Linked DNA regions of Homo sapiens: region 1 is linked to region 2. Evidence: fine-mapped expression QTL. A gene starts in region 2. The other region holds a variant in brackets. All regions are shown on one strand. Distances are between the middles of the regions.

The links. PIP is the estimated chance that this variant, and not a neighbour inherited with it, causes the effect.
Region 1: its variant is fine-mapped to the expression of LGALS4 in lung (TOPMed, PIP above 0.99).

What each region holds. Positions count from the first base shown.
Region 1 is chr19:38,755,137-38,763,728 of GRCh38, forward strand. No RefSeq gene overlaps it. Among named protein-coding and RNA genes, the nearest start is that of LGALS7, 14 kb to the right of the region's middle. The variant G/A (reference allele first, on the strand shown) is at 4,561.
Region 2 is chr19:38,807,998-38,816,589 of GRCh38, forward strand. It overlaps LGALS4 (galectin 4), which reads right to left and starts at 4,948. Exons shown (of 10, transcript NM_006149.4): 1 at 4,845-4,948; 2 at 4,434-4,522; 3 at 747-951. The coding sequence starts at 4,889. It overlaps ECH1 (enoyl-CoA hydratase 1), which reads right to left. Exons shown (of 10, transcript NM_001398.3): 7 at 8,456-8,526; 8 at 8,287-8,358; 9 at 7,860-8,010; 10 at 7,425-7,720. The coding sequence ends at 7,616. RefSeq lists a silencer at 7,758-7,958.

The DNA.
Region 1 (8,592 bases), 53 kb before region 2:
AATTTTCCTTTATCTACCCAAATCCTATAAAAACAGCCCCGCCCTTATCTCCCTTCGCTGACTCTTTTCAGACTCAGCCCGCCTGCACCCAGGTGAAATAAACAGTTTTATTGCTTACACAAAGCCTGTTTGGTGGTCTCTTCACACGGACGCGAGTGAAAGTAAAACTGCTGAAAACAATTCAAAAAGGGCATTTTTTTTTTTTTTTGAGGCAGAGTCTCACTCTGTCGCCCAGGCTGGAGTGCAGTGGCACAATCTCGGCTCACTATAAGCTCCATCTCCCGGGTTCACACCATTCTCCTGCCTCAGCCTCCCGAGTAGCTGGGACTACAGGCACCCACCACCACGCCTGGCTAATTTTCTGTATTTTTAGTAGAGACGGGGTTTCACCGTGTTAGCCAGGATGTTCTCGATCTCCTGACCTCGTGATCCACCCTCCTTGGCCTCCCAAAGTGCTGGGATTACAGGCGTGAGCCACCGTGCCAGGAAAATGGAAAATTTTAAAGGAGCAAGTGAAAAACAGCTCATTATGTACAGGGGAACAATAGAATTAATGGCTAGATTCTCCTAGGAACAATGGAGGCCAGAAGGCAGATGAATGATTTATTCAAAACACTGAAAGAAAAATAAAACTGTCAACTGATAATTCTATATTCAACAAAACTATACTTCAAAACAAAAGGCAAAAGAAAATCATTCCCAGATAAACAAAAAGAGAATTCCTGACTAGCATATACCTAAACGCAGGGAATACTCAAGGAAACCCCTCACACTGAAAATGACAGTAGACAGAAACTCAAATCCACAGGAAGAAATGAAGAGCCCCAGAAATGTATTTTTCTTTTCTTCTTTTAATTTATTTTAAAACATAAGGTCAGGCTGGGCACGGTGGCCCACGCCTATAATCCCAGCACTTTGGGAGGCCGAGGCAGGCAGATCATGAGGTCAAGAGATCGAGACCATCCTGGCTAATGTGGTGAAACCCCGTCTCTACTAAAAATACAAAAAAAATTAGCCGGGTGTGGTGGCGGGTGCCTGTAGTCCCAGCTACTCGGAAGGCTGAGGCAGGAGAATGGCGTGAACCTGGGAGGCGGAGCTTGCAGTGAGCTGAGATTGCACCACTGCACTCCAGGCTGGGCGACAGAGCAAGACTCCATCTCAAAAAAAAAAAAAAAAAAAGAAAAAAACCATATAAGGCCGGGTATGGTGGCTCAAACCTGTAATCCCAGCACTTTGAGGCCAAGGTGGGTGGATTGCTTGAGCTCAGGAATTCAAGACCAGCCTGGGCAACATGGTGAAACCCCATCTCTACCCAAAATACAAAAATTAGCCAGGCATGGTGGTGCAAACCTATAGTCCAGTCCCAGCTGTTCAGGAGGCTGAGGTGGGTGTATTGCTGGAGCCTGGGAGGTCGGAGCTGCAGTGAGCTGTGATTGTGCCACTGCACTCTGGCCTGTGTGACAGAGCAAGACTCTGTCTCAAAATAAATAGACAGACAAATAAATAAAATTGTAAAAAATATATATATATAAAATTGTTTAAAGTAAAGGTTATGCCAGGCACAGTGGCTCATGCCTGTAATCCCAGCACTTTGGGAGGCCAAGGACAGTGGATCATCCGAGGTCAGGAGTTAAAGACCAGCCTGGCCAACATGGCAAGACCCTGTCTCTACTAAAAATATAAAAATTAGCTGGGAATGGTGGCAGGCACCTGTAATCCCAGCCACTCGGGAGACTGAGGCAGGATAATCGCTTGAACCTGGGAGGCAGAGGTTGCGGTGAGCCAAGATCATGCCATTGCACTCCAGCCTGGGCTACAAGAGCGAAACTCCATCTAAATAAATAAATAAATAAATAAATAAATAAATAAAGGAAAGGTTATAAGGCCGGGCATGGTTGCTTACGCCTGTAATCCCAGCACTTTGGGAGGCCGAGGCGGTGGATCATGTGAGGTCAGGAATATGAGACCAGCATGGTCAACATGGTGAAACCCTGTCTCTACAAAAATACAAACTTAACCAGGCATGATGGTGGCTGCCTGTAGTCCGAGGTACTCAGGAGGCTGAGGCAGGAGAATGGCTTGAACCCAGGTGGTGGAGGTTGCAGTGAGCCAAGATCACGCCATTGCACTCCAGCCTGGGCGACAGAGCAAGACTCCATCTCAAATAAATAAAAATAAATAAATAAAATACAAAAAATTAGCTGGGTGTGATGGTGCACGCGTTTAGTCCCAGCTACTCAGGAGGCTGAGACAGCAGAATGGCTTGAACCTGAAAGGTGGAGGTTGCAGTGAGCTGAGATCATGCCATTGCGCTCCAGAGCGAGACTCTGTCTCAAAAACAACAACAACAAAAAAACGCGAGGCACAGTGGCTCACGCCTGTAATCCCAGCACCTTGGGAGGCTGAGGTGGGGGGGATCACCTGAGGTCAGTTCAAGACCAGCCTGGCCAACATGGAAACCCCATCTCTACTAAAAATACAAAAATTAGCCGGGCATGGTGGCGGGTGCCTGTAATCCCAGCTACTTGGGAGGCTGAGGCAGGAGAATCACTTTAACCCAGGAAGCAGAGGTTGCAGTGAGCCAAGATCGCGCCACTGCACTCCAGCCTGGGTGGCAGACTGAGACTCCATCTCAAAAAAAAAAAAAAAAAAAAACCCAGTTATATAGCACTGTATTTTTTTAGAGACATGATCTTGCTCTGTCACTCAGGTTGGAGTGCAGTGGCATGATCATAACCCATTGTAACCTCAGACTCCCAGTCTCAAGCAATCCCCCTGCCTCATCCTCCCTAGTAGCTGGGACCACAGGTATACACCACCACACCTGGATAATTTTTGATTTTTTTTTTTTTTTGTAGAGACAGGGTCTCACTATGTTGCCCAGGCTGGTCTCAAACTCCTGGCCTCTAGCAATCATCCCACCTCGGCCTCCCAAAATGCTGGGATTCCAGGCGTGAGCCACCACACCTGGCCTGTATCCCTGACTAGGTGACATACACAGTCGGGTGCTGCATCACCACGTTTCAGTCAGTGATGGACTGCACATGCGACAATGTCCCATAAAATTACAACGAAGCCGGACTCCTATCACCTAGTGATGCTGCAGCCATCACAATGCTGTAGCACAATTACTTTATTTTTTTAAATTTAGGGTAGCCTAAGAGTACAGTGCTTATAAAGTCTACAGGAGTGTACAGTGCTGTCCTAGCCTTCACATTCACTCACCACTCACTCACTCACACCTGGAGCAACTTCCGGTCCTGCAAGCTCCATTCCTGGTAAGTGTCCCATACAGGCGTACCATTTGTCATCTTTTATTTATTTTTCTGAGATGGAGTCTCACTCTCTCACCCAGGCTGGAGTGCAGTGGCATGATCTCCGCTCACTGCAACCTCCATCTCCCAGGTTCAAGTGATCCTCCTGCCTCAACCTCCCAAATAGCTGGGATTACAGGCGTGCACCACCACACCTGGCTAACTTCTTTGTATTTTTTTTTTTTTTCAGCCAGAGTCTCTATCTGTTGTCCAGGTTGGAGTGCAGTGGCATGATCTTGGCTCACTGCAACCCCCGCCTCCCGGGTTCAAGCGATTCTCCTGCCTCAGCCTCCCAAGCAGCTGGGATTACAGGCACGTGCCACCATGCCTGGCTAATTTTTGTGTTTTTAGTAGAGATGGGGTTTCACCATGCTGGTCCTGCTGGTCTCAAACTCCTGACCTCGTGATCCGCCCACCTCAGCTCCCAAAGTGCTGGGATTACATGCGTGAGCCACCGTGCCTGGCCTAAACTTCTTTGTATTTTTAGCAGAGACGAGGTTTCACCATGTTGGCCAGGCTGGTTTCGAACTCCTGACCTCAAGTGATCTGCCCACCTCAGCTTCCCAAAGTGCTAGGATTACAGGCATGAACTACTGCTCCTGGCCCATTTTCCATCTTTTATACCATAGTTTTACTGTACCTTTTTTATGTTCAGATATGTTTATATACACAAATACTTACCATTGTGTTACAATTGCCCACTGTGTTCAGTACAGTTAAATGCTGTGCATGCTTGTAGCCTATGAGCTGTAGGTTACTTTATATAGCCTAGGTGTGGGGTAGGCTGTACCATCTACGTTTGCATAAGTCACTCTATGATGTTCACACCCTGACGAAATTGCCTAACCATGCATTTCTTAGAACTTAAGACCGTATAGATGACCATATAGAAAACCAGAGACTGGGCCAGGTGTGGTGGCTCACACCTGTAATCCCAGCACTTTGGGAGGCCGAGGTGGGTGGATCACCTGAGGTCTGGAGTTGGAGACCAGCCTGGCCAACATGGTGAAACCCTGTCTCTATTAAAAATGCAAAAAATTAGCCGGGACTGGTGGTGGGCACCTATAATCCCAGATACTCAGGAGGCTGAGGCAGGAGAATCACTTGAATCCAAGAGGCAAAGATCGCACCATTGCACTCCAGCGCCTGGACCACAAGAGTGAAACTCCGTCTCAAAAAAAAAAAAAAAAAGGAACCGGGAAGGTCATGAAAGGAGCGTGCTCATGCACAAATGCCTGATAGGAAC[G/A]ATTGCGGAAGACTCTCCAAAAACCACAACCTCGCACAAAGTCCACTGCAACGTTACACAGAAAGTACTTTTGTCCAGTAACTGCCTGTCCAACCTTGGACTGATGCCACCCTTGTTTCAAGTCTCGTAGCCAAGGATAATTGATTCAAAACACTTTATGTAATCCTCCTCATTTTGCCTTTGAAAACTTCCCCTTGGCTGGGCATGGTGGCTCACACCTGTAATCCAAGCACTTTGGGAGGCTGACCCAGGCAGACCCCTAGAGTCCAGGAGTTTGAGATCGGCCTGGGCAATATGGTGAAACTCTGTCTCTAGAAAAGATACAAAAATTAGCTGGGCATGGTGGTGTGCGACTGTATTCCCAGCTACTCAGGAGGCTGAGGTGGGAGGATGGCTTGAGGACGGGAAGCGGGGGTTGCAGTGAGCCGAGATTGCACCACTGTTCTCCAACCTGGGCAACAGATCGAGATCTTGTCTCAAAATAATAATAATAATAATTATTATTGTTATTATTATTTAAAAATTTAAAACTTCGCCTTGCCTCAATCTCCTCTTTTTTTTTTTTTTTTTAAGATAAGGAGAGGCCAGCTATGCAGTGGCTCACACCTGTAATCCCAATACTTTGGGAGGCCAAGACGGGCAGATCACAAGATCAGGAGTTTGAGACCAGCCTGGCCAATATGGTGAATCCCCAACTCTACTAAAAATACAAATTAGCTGGGTGTGGTGGCAGGCACCTGTAGTCCCAGCTACTCGGGAGGCTGAGGCAGGAGAATCACTTGAACCAGGTTGCAGTGAGCTGAGATCACACCACTGCACACCAGCCTGGGCAATAGAGAGAGACTCCATCTAAAAAAAAAAACACACACAAAAAAAGAGAGAGACATAGGATTGGGCCGGGCACAGTGGCTCACGCCTGTAATCCTAGCATGTTAGGAGGCTTAGGCAGGTGGACCACCTGAGGTCTGGAGTTTCAGACCAGCCCAGTTAACATGGCAAAACCCCATCTCTACTGAAAATACAAAAATTAGCCAGGTGTGGTGGCACCTGCCTTTAGTCCCAACTACTTGGAGGCTGAGGCAGGAGAATCACTTGAACCCAGGAGGCAGAGGTTGCAGTGAGCTGATTGCATCAGTGCACTCCAGCCTGGATGAGAGAGACTCCATCTCAAAAAAAAAAGAAGAAGAAGAAAGAAAGAAAGAAGGAAGGAAGGGAGGGAGGGAGGGAGGGAGGGAGGGAGGGTGGGAGGGAAAGAAATTATTATGTGAGATAAGACAGGTGGATCTCGTGAGCCCAGGAGTTTGAGGCCATCCTGGGCAACATAATGAGACCCCCATCTCTATTAGAAAATAATAATAGTAAAAATAAAAAATAATTTAAAAAGTATTACTTCTAACTATAATGGAACTAAGCTAAAAGCCAACAATAAAATGAAATTTAGAAAATCTCTAAATATAAGAAAACTAAACAACATACTTGTAGATGACCTATGTGTCAAAGAAGGAATCTGGCTAGGTGTGGTGGCTCATGCCTATAATCCCAGCCAAGGGAGGCCAAGGCCAGTGGATCACCTTAGATCAGGAGTTCGAGACCAGCCTGGCCAACACGGTGAAACCGTGTCTCTACTAAAAAATACAAACATTAGCTGGGCGTGGTGGCTCATGCCTGTAGTCCCAGCTACTTGATAGGCTGAGGCAGGAGGATTGCTTGAACCTGGGAGGTGGAGGTTGTGGTGAGCTGAGATCACGCCACTGTACTCCAGCCTGGGTGACAGAGTGAGACTCCATCTAAAAAAAAAAAAAAAAAAAATCAAAAATGAATTTAGAAAATACCTTGAGCTGAATAAAAACAAAAACACAGGAAATAAAAATGTACAGGATGCTGGCAATGTAGTAATTAGCGGGAAACTTATAGCTTAAAAAACATATTAGTGTTGAGTCAGCCTGGTGAAAATTTTAAAAACCCCAACACATTAGAATGGAAAGAAGGCCTAAAATCAATAATTTAGGCTTCCACCTCCAAAGCTAGAAAAAGAAGAGTAAATCAAACTCAAAGAAAATAGTAAGAAGGAAGTAATAAAGATCTAAATGGACAGCAATGAAACAGAAATATAAAAACAATAGAGAAAAAGCAATGAAACTGAAATTGGCTCATTGAAAACATCAACAAAACCGGTATTGAAAAGATTAACAGGCCAGGTGTGGTGGCTCACACCTGTAATCCCAGCAGTTTGAGAGGCCAAGGTGGGTAGATCACTTGAGGTCAGGCGTTCGAGACCAGCCCGGTCGACATGGAGAAACCCTGTCTCTACTAACAATACAAAAATTAACTGGGCATGGTGGCACACACCTGTAATCCCAGCTGGAGGCTGAGACAGGAGAATCACTTGAACCCAAGAGGCCGAGGTTGCAGTGAGTCGAGATCATGCCACTGTACTCCAGCCTGGGTGACAGAGTGAGACTCTTGTCTCAAAAAAAGAAAAGATCAGCAAAACTGGGCCGGGTGCAGTGGTTCCCACCTGTAATCCCAGCACTTTGGAAGGCCGAGGCAGGTGGATCACCTGAGATCAAGAATTCAAGACCAGCCTGGCCAACATGGTGAAACCCCGTCCCTACTAAAAATACAAAAATTGGTGGGGCATGGTGGTGGGCACCTGTAATCCCAGCTACTCAGGAGGCTGAGGCAGGAGAATCGCTTGAATCCGGAGGTGGAGGTTGATGTGAGCCGAGATCACACCACTGCACTCCAGCCTTTGGCGACAGAGTGAAACTCTGTCTCAAAAACAAACAAACAAACAAACAAACTAGTATACTGGTTTTCAATGAAATCAGTTAGCTCATTAAAAAGTTCAACAAAAGAGTAAGAAAAATAAAAAAGACAGAAGCCCTCAATTACCAAAAGCAAGAATGAAGGAGGGAAAAACACTAACATGGTACACAAATTTTAAAAAATCACAGGGGAATATTATGAACAGATTTAGGTCAACTAATTAGGCAATTTAAATGAAATGAACAAATCCCTAGAGAGACACAAATTACCAAAACTGACTCAAGAACAAAATAGAAACACAGATACAATTTTTGTACAAGTATCCATTGAAATGTATTGAAAAATGAAAATGACATAGAATAAACAAAACAATTTTGAGAAAGGAGAACAAAGTTGCAAGGCATATAATGTGACTTTAAGACTCACTATTCACTTTGGGAGGTCAAGGTGGGTGGATGGCTTGAGCCCAGGAATTCCAGACCAGCCTGGGCAACATGGCGAGACCATGTCTCTCCAAAAAATACAGAAATTAACTGGGTGTGGTGGCATGTGCCTGTAGTCCCAGCTACTTAGGAGGGTGAGCCCAGGAGGTTGAAACCACAGTGAACTGTGATCGCACCACTGCACTCCAGCTTGGGAAACAAAGTGAGAATCTGTCTCAAAAAAAAAAAAAAAGAAGAAGAAGAAGCCAGGCGCAGTGGCTCATGCTTGTAATGCCAGCACTTTGGGAGGCCGAGGTGGGCAGATCACCTGAGGTCAGGAGTTCGAGACCAGCCTGACCAACATGGTGAAATCCCATCTCTACTAAAACTACAAAAATTAGCTGGGCATGGTGGCAGGCACCTGTAATCCCAGCACTCAGGAGGCTGAGGCAGGAGAATTGCTTGAACTCAGGAGGCAGAGGTTGCAGTGAGCTGAGATTGTGCCATTGCACTCCAGCCTGGGTGACAGAGAGAGACTCCGTCTTTTTTAAAGGAAAAAAAAAAAAAAGGCCAGGCGCAGTGGCTCACGTCTGTAATCTCAGCACTTTGGGAGGCCGAGGCAGGTGGATCACAAGGTCAGGAGTTAAGAGACCAGCCTGGCTAACACGGTGAAACCCCGTCTCTACTAAACATACAAAAAAATTAGCCGGGCGTGGTGGTGGGTGCCTGTAGTCCCAGCTACTCTGGAGGCTGAGGCAGGAGAATGGCGTGAACCCAGGAGGCGGAGCTTGCAGTGAGCAGAGATCACGCCACTGCACTCCAGCCTGGGCGACAAAGTAAG
Region 2 (8,592 bases):
CTCTGCCTAGGAAAACCAGAGACCTTTGTTCACGTGTTTATCTGCTGACCTTCTCTCCACTATTATCCTATGACCCTGCCACATCCCCCTCTCTGAGAAACACCCAAGAATGATCAATAAATAAAAATAAATAAATAAATAAATAATAAAATAAAATAAAATAGGCAGGAAAGAAGGAAAAGAAAAGAAAGAAGTTGACATAAAAAGTGGGGATGGAAAAAGGAAATAAATGAAGGAGGGAAGGAGAGAGAAGGAAGAAGAGAGGAGGGAAGGGGGAAGGAAGGAGGGGAGGAAAGAGGAGAGAACAGAGAAAGAGGAAGGAAAAAGAGGAAAAAGAAGGAAGGGGCTGGGTGTGGTGGCTCACGCCTGTAATTCCAGCACTTTGGGAGGCCAAGGAGGGCAGAACACCTGAGGTCGGGAGTTCGAGGCCAGCCTGGGCAACATGGTGAAACCCCATCTCTACTCAAAATACAGAAATTAGCTGAGCGTGGTGGCACGCGCCTATAATCCCAGCTACTCGGGAGGCTGAGGCAGGAGAAGCTCTTGAACCCAGCAGGCAGAGGTTGCAGTAAGCTGAGATCATGCCACTGCACTCCAGCCTGGGCAACAGAGTGAAACTCCATCTCAAAAAAAAAAAAAAAAAAAAGAAAGAAAGAAAGAAAAGGAAGGAAGGCGGGAAGGAAGGAAGCAGCCAAGATGGCGCCACTGCACTCCAGCTTGGGAAACAAGAGAGAAAGCATGCAGACCTTGTAGTGCTCAGCCAGGACTATGAAGACCAGCTCAAAGGCGGCACCCTTTTTGAAGGGCATGCTCCTCTTCCTCTCCTCGCTGCCCCACTTCCCGCCCTGCAACGTGTTGAAGACCACCTTGTCCCAGCCGTCAAACCGCGGATTGAAGTGGAAGGCGACGTCTGAGCCCGGATCCTGCCCAACCACAAAGTTCACGAAGAACCTGGCGGGACACAAAGGGCTCATTCCCCTGGTGCCACCTCCCGGGGCCTGGGGGCCTCCTCCAGGAAGCCCTCTCCCTGCCGCCCTGTCCTCGGCCTCCCTGGCCCGGACCTCAGCACCAGCTCTGAGGGGCAACCTTGGCACTGTGGGCCACAGCGTGGAGAGGACCTGAGTTCTGAGGGGGGCAGATTCCCACCACCACACCTTCGCTCACAGCCTTTCCTTCTTTTTTTTTTTTTTTTTTTTTTTGAGATGGAGTCTTGCTCTGTTGCCCAGGCTGGAGTTGGAGTGCCGCGATCTCAGCTCACTGCAACCTCCGCCTCCTGGATTCCAGTGATTCTCCTGCCTCAGCCTCCCAAGTAGCTGGGATTACAGGCGTGCACCACCACGTCCGGCTAATTTTTGTATTTTTAGTAGAGACAGGGTTTCACCATGTTGGCCAGGCTGATCTCAAACTCCTGACCTCAGGTGATCCACCTGCCTCGGCTTCCCAAAGTGCTGGGATTACAGGTGTGAGACACCGTGCCTGACATTTTTTTTCTTGAGACAGGGTCTTGTGTTCTCACCCTGTCCCCCAGGCTGGAGTACAGTGGCCACGATGGTGGCTCACTGCAGCCTCAACCTCCTGGGTCAACTGATTCTCCTGCCTCAGCCTCCCTAGTAGCTGGGACTACAGGTGCATGCCACTATGCCTGGCTTTTTTTTTTTTTTTTTTTTTTTTTTGTAGAGATGGGGTCTCACTATGTTGCCGAGGCTGGTCTCAAACTCCCGGGCTCAAGCAATCCTACCACCTCGGCCTCTCAGAGTGCTGGGATTACAGGTGTGAGTTGCTGTACCCAGCCCACCTTGCCTTCTTAGACCACCTCCTCCACCCTCTTCCCAACTTCCAGTTATGACTGTTACAAGTCTGCCACGGGCCAGGCCCTGTCCTATGCACTTTGGGTCTCCCTGCTCCCCTCCTGGCCCTGAAGATCATTTCCCTCATGCAGCCAGAGGGTCCCTGTGTACACCCATGACGCATCATATTCCGCACCCCTGGGCACACCAGCATCCTTGAAATTACTCCCCAGGACAGGCCTGTCTCAGGGCCTTTGCACTGGCTGTTCCCTCTGCCTGGAAGGCCCTTCCCTCAGCTGTCCCTGGGGATCCCTCTCTCCGTTCCTTCTGTTCTTTGCTGATATGTTCCCTTCCCAGGCAGGCCTTCTCTGGCCACCTTTTTAATTTTTTTGAGACAGTCTCCCTTTGTCACCTAGGCTGGAGTGCAGTGATGCGATCTCAGCTCACTGCAAACTCTGCCTTCAGGATTCAAGTGATTCTCCCACATCAGGCTCTCAAGTAGCTGGGATTACAGGCACCTGTCACCATGCCTGGCTAATTTTGTATTTTCAGCAGAGATGAGATTTCGCCTTTTTTTTTTTTTTTTTTTTTTTTTTGAGATGGAGTCTCGCTCTTTCGCCCAGGCTGGAGTGCAGTGGCGCAATCTTGGCTCACTGCAAGCTCCGCCTCCTGGTTTCACGCCATTCTCCTGCCTCAGCCTCCCGAGTAGCTGGGACTACAGGCACCCGCCACCATGCCCAGCTAATTTTTTGTATTTTTAGTAGAGACGGGGTTTCACTGTGTTAGCCAGGATGGTCTCGATCTCCTGACCTCGTGATCCGCCCGTCTCTGCCTCCCAAAGTGCTGGGATTACAGACGTGAGCCACCACGCCCAGCCAGATGCGATTTTGCCATTTTGGCCAGGCTAGTCTCGAGCTCCTGACCTCAGGTGATCTGCCTGGCTTAGCCACCCAAAGTGCTGGGATTACAGGCGTAAGCCACCATGCCCGGCCAGGCCACCCTATTTAAGGGGACAATTTAAAGGGAACCTCTGTCCGCACATACACTCCCCATCTCCCTTCCCTCCTCATTTTCTTCATAGCACTTAATATCATCTGACATCTTACATATTTGACTTTTTTTTTTTTTTTTTTTGAGACAGAGTCTCACTCTTGTTGCCCAGGCTGTAGTGCAATGGCACGATCTCGGCTCACCGAAACCTCCACTTCCCAGGTTCAAGTGATTCTCCTGCCTCAGCCTCCTGAGTAGCTGGGATTACAGGCATGCGCCACCACGCCCTGGTAATTTTGTATTTTTAGTAGAGACAGGGTTTCTCCATTTTGGTCAGGCTGGTCTTGAACTCCCGATCTCAGGTGATCTGCCTGCCTAGGCCTCCTAAAGTGCTGGGATTACAGGCCTGAGCTACCGCGCCCGGCCTGGACTTATTTTTTATGTTTCCCCTACTAGGACATCAGCTCCACGAGGGCAGGGGTCTCTGTCCTGTTCACTCCTCCATCCCTAGTGCCAGGACACAGAATAGGCACTCAGTGAAGAAGTAAACAATAAATAAATAAACAACAGGCTGGGCAGAGTGGCTCATACCAGTGCCTGATCCTCCCAGCACTTTAGGAGGCCGAGGCTAGAGGATCGCTTGAGCACAGGAGTTCAAGACCAGCCTGGGCAACATAACAAGACTTTGTCTCTACAAAACAAATAATAATAATAAATAAAAATTAAAAATTAAATTAGTTGGGCATGGTGGCACATGTCTGTAGTCCCATCTGCTTGGAAAGATGAGGTAGGAGGATCACTTTAGCCCAGGAGTTGGAGGCCGAAGTGAGCTATAATATTGTGCCACTGCACTCCAGCTTGGGCAACAGAGCAAGACCCTATCTCTAAGGAAAAAAAAAGTCCTATGAGGCCAATCATTATCAACGTGTTAAGGCCCTTTTTAAAAAGCTAAGACTGGGCCAGGCGCAGTGGCTCACGCCTGTAATCCCAGCACTTTGGGAGGCCGAGATGGGAGGATCACTTGAGGTCAGGAGTTCGAGACCAGCCTGACCAACATGGTGAAACCCCATCTCTACTAAAAATACAAAAATTAGCCAGTGTGCTGGCACATGCCTGTAATCCCAGCTACTCAAGAGGCTGAGGCAGGAGAATCGCTTGAACCTGGGAGACAGAGGTTGCAGTGAGCCAAGATCATGCCATTGCACTCCAGCCTGGGCGACAAGAGCAAAACTCCATCTCAAAACAAAAAAAAAAACAAAAAAAACAAAAACAGAAAAGAAAAGAAAATGAAGCACAGAGAGGTATAGTCACTTTCACTCTTTCACCAACACAGAGCTGGGGAGTGGCAGAGCTGGGATTTTAACTCGGGGACCCGGCTCTGAGCCTGTGATCTGAATTCCTGCCATTGCACCCATCAGCTTCAGTCTAATGTCCAACTCAGGGACTGCCTCTCACGGTGAGCCCTCCCTGAACCTTCTGGCCCCCACGTCCCCACTCCTGATCTGCCCCAGATTCATCTCTGGCTATTGGGTGGGGCAGAAAAAGAGTCCCCTCTCCACCAGGGTGGGGTAAGGGCAGAAAGCCCCCAACAGCCAGGCCCAGAGCACCCAGTTGGAAGTCCCCTGCCAGCCCGGCCTGGCTTGGGGAGGGTCTTACCGCTTCATGTGCTCGCTGGCCACTCCTTGGATGTAAACAGACATTCCCACGTTGAGCCCGCCCGGGATGGGCTGGTAGTAAGGCAGCGTCTGGAGAAGAGGCCTGGTGAGGGGACTCACAAGCCATCTGCCTGTTGCAGCCTTTACCCCTCCCAGAAAAGCCCCCCAGTCCCTTAAGCAGGAGAGAGGAAACCATGGGGGAGGACCAGGTTGAAGATGACGAGGGCCAACAGTTAGACGTGGACACAGACAGCCTGAGGTCAGGGTAGGAGTAAATCGAGGGTCGGGGTCAGCTTTGGGTAAATCAGACCACAGAGTCAGATGGGGCCCCCCAGGATCAGAGTGGGGAAAATTGGTGTGAGGGCTTATGGACGGAGCTGCGGGCGGAGTGGGGCCTGAGCTGGCATCTCACCGGGTTGTAGGTGGGCTGGTAGCCCGGTGCGGGGACATAGGCCATCGCTCGAGGCTGCGCTAGTGGCTGGTCCTGTGAGAAGAGCTGCAGGAGTGGGAGATGGTGGCGGATGGCAGGCGGTGGTGGCTCTTATACCCAGGGTAAGGGAGTGGCTGGCAGGGGAGGGTCCACAGGGCTCCTCTTCTGGGACTCTCAGGCTGTCGGCTTCTCCTAGAGCGCACCCTAGTCTCCCTTCCCTTGCCAGCTTCCCTGGTGACCAGCCAGGACCCAAATCACCTGGGTCCCCTCCCCTACGCCCTCCTGCAAAGAGGAAGTGCTCATGAACTTCGGCCCTGCCAGGGCCTTATCAGAGCCCATAAAACCCTGCCCAGACTTCTGTTGGCAGAGGGAGGGTGAGACCAGGCAGGGCAGGGCAGGCTGCAGGAATGACCCAGGACAGGTGGGCAGCGGAGGAGGAGAACGCGGAGGAACTGCAAATTCCTGCCTCTCCCAGCAACTGTGAAGGGACCTACGTTGATTGCGTGCCCACCACACATCTTTACCACGTATGTTGTATTGTAGGGAGAGTGGTTTAGATTACTAGTGTGTGGAGCCAGAGGTTCTAGGTTCAAATCCTGCCTTTGCCACTTCTCAGCTGTATGATCATGGGTCAGTGCCTTACCCTCAATTTGCCCATGTGCTCATCTGTAAAATGGGGATATAGTAGTATCGGCTGGGTGCAGTGGCTCATGCCTGTAATCCCAGCACTTTGACTGGCCGAGGTGGATGGATCACCTGAGGGCAGGAGTTCGAGACCAGCCTGGCAAAATCCCAGTCTCTACTAAAAATACAAAAATTAGCCAGGCATGGTGGTGGGTGCCTATAATCCCATCTACTTGGAGGCTGAGGCAGGAGAATCACTTGAACCTGAGTGGAGGAGAGTGCAGTGAGCCAAGGTCACGCCACTGCACTCCAGCTTGGATGACAGATGGAGACTCTGTTTCAAAAAAAAAAAAAAAAAAAAAGGAATTCATAAGAGAGGAAACAAGTATTGAATAGCTATCAAAATATTTTAAAAATGAATTTGTGATCCAGTAATGCCTGTATGTTATTAATCTGCCAAATAAGTTCTAGCTGTGGGTCCAACTGCCACTCAGAAAAATAAATAAATAAAGAAAAGAGTAGTATCAACCTTAGGCTGGGTGTGGTGGCTTGTGCCTACAATCCCAGCAATTTGGGAAGCTGAAGCAGGAGGACTGCTTGAGCCCAGGAGTTCAAGACCAGCCTGGGCAACATAGTGAGACCCCCATCTCTACAAAAATAAAATAAAAATTAGCTGGGCATGGTAGCACACATCTGTATTCCTAGCTACTCAGAGGCTGAGGCAGGAGGATCGCTTGAACCCAGGAGTTAAGGTTACAGTGAGCTATGATCATGCCACTGCACTCCAGCCTGGGTGACAGACTAAGAGTCCGTCTCTAAAAATAGCAACAATAATAGTCATAATAATAATAATCATAATAGTATCAACTTCATAGAGTCCTTGATCATTAAGATAATAAATGCTCAGAACAGGACATAGCATATAGAAGTCATTAACTTAATGCTTGGTCTCTTGCAGTCATTCCAAACATAAATCCGGAAGATTGGGATGATATATGGATAAAAAATCCCAAAGTTTTGTTTGCTCATTTTTGAGACAGAGTCTTGCTCTATCACCCAGGCTGCAGTGCAGTGGCACCATCTCAGCTCACTGCAACCTCCACCTCCCAGGTTCAAGGGATTCTCCTGCCTCAGCCTTCTGAATAGCTGGGATTACAGGCTTACTCCACGCCTGGCTAATTTTTGTATTTTTAGTAGAGACCAGGTTTTGCCATGTTGGCCAGGCTGGTCTCAAACTCCTGACCTCAAGTGATCCACCTGCCTCAACCTCCCAAAGTGCTGGAATTACAGGCATGAGCCACTGCACCCGGCCAGAAACCCCAAAGTCCTTTTTTGTTTTGTTTTTTCTTTTTTTGAGACAGAGTCTCACTCTGTCACCCAGGCTGGACTGCAGCAGCATGATCTCAGCTCACTGCAAACTCACCTCCTGGGTTCAAGGATTCTCCTGCCTCAGCCTCCCGAGTAGCTGGGACTAGAGGCACCTGCCACCACACCTAGCTAATTTTTGTATTTTTAGTAGAGACTGGGTTTCAACATGTTGACTAGGCTGGTTGCAAACTCCTGAGCTCAGGCAATCCACCTGCGTCAGCCTCCAAAAGTGCTGGGATTACAGGTGTGAGACGCCAGCATCAGATCCCATGTGCTGTGCAGTGAGAGGTGCCAGGCAGGGCACGAACGCCACCCTCAACCCCAGGGCAGGCAGGGAGACCAGGAAGCCTTGCAACCCAGAGGGACCCCAGCGACTTTTGCTCACTCCCTCCGCCCCGGAATTCCTTGTGCCCCTCGCCTGCCCGCTGCCAGTCTGAATGGCCATCACCTCCATGCCACCCATTCCCATGCATCCAACCTCTAGCCCCAGCCTTCAGGACTGCAGTCTCTGGAGCCCCTAGGTGCATCCCAGCCCCTCCCACCTCTCCTCTATCCAAGAAGGGCACCAGGTTCTTTACTTTGCTTTATTGTTTGTGGGGTGAAGATAAGGCCTTGGGCTTGAGAAACTCATTGTCATAAAGTTATAAACTGGGAAACTGGGTCAGAAGGCATAGAAACAACTGTCATCGCCCATCCTCCCTTTCTGTGGATGAGGCGGGACAAGGCCGGCCCCCTGGCTGGGGCCTGGGACGCGAGGGCTCTCAGAGCTTGGAGAAGGTGACGGTTTTCAGTTCCTTGTTCTCAGTCGTGGCCTGGACCGACTTCACGAGGTCTTGGGTCTGCAGCATGCTCATGTTCCAGGACGCCTGGTACCGAGGGTGTTGAGAGAGAACGAGGAGAGAGATTAGCAGGGGCCAATCAGGATAAAGCATGAGAGCACCCTGCACCCTGGTTGGTCGCCTGGGGTTAGAGGAGGGCTGTGATTGGTCGGAGCGTGCACCTTACCACGTAGTTGAGGCTCTCGGCCACCGAATGGTCGCGGGAATACAGCAGGTTGACCTTGGTGCTCTGCACCGCCACGGGGCTCTTGCTGGAAATCTCGGCCGCCAGCGCTAAGGCAGCATCCAGCATGACCTCTTTGTCTGGGAACACCCGGCTGCAGTGAAAGAGATCAGGGACCGGGTGGGCTGGGAAGGGCTCTCTCCTCCAGCCTCCCGCAGATGAAGAAGTGGCCACTCACAGAGGAAGGCCCAAGACCCCAGAGAAACAGCCCAATCAGAGCAGGGGGCTGACCCCACAATAAAGAAATGAGCTCACCAAGAAAGGATGCCACTAGGAATTCTAGAGCGAGGAGACAAGGGGACCCGGAGAGGCCTCCAACCCTCCAGGCCTGGCTGCCCCCAGCACTGAGCTACCACGGCCATGGCCCTACCTGACCAGCCCACTGCCCAGGGCCTCGTCAGCCATCATCTTGCGGGCGGTGAAGGCCAGCTCGTTGACCAGGCTGCAAAGGCAAGCGTGCATCAGGAGGCGGCTGCCACCCCGGGGCTGGGAGATGCTCTGGGGTCTCCTGCCCACACCCCCACACCCCCTGCACCCACCTCTGGTTCCCGATGACCTTGGGCAGGCGCTGCAGTGTTCCTACATCGGCAGCCAAACCCACGTCCACCTCCTGGGGGAGGAATCGGGTCAGTGTTTGGTTTCTGCCCAATACTGTGCCCCTCGCAATGTCAACGTC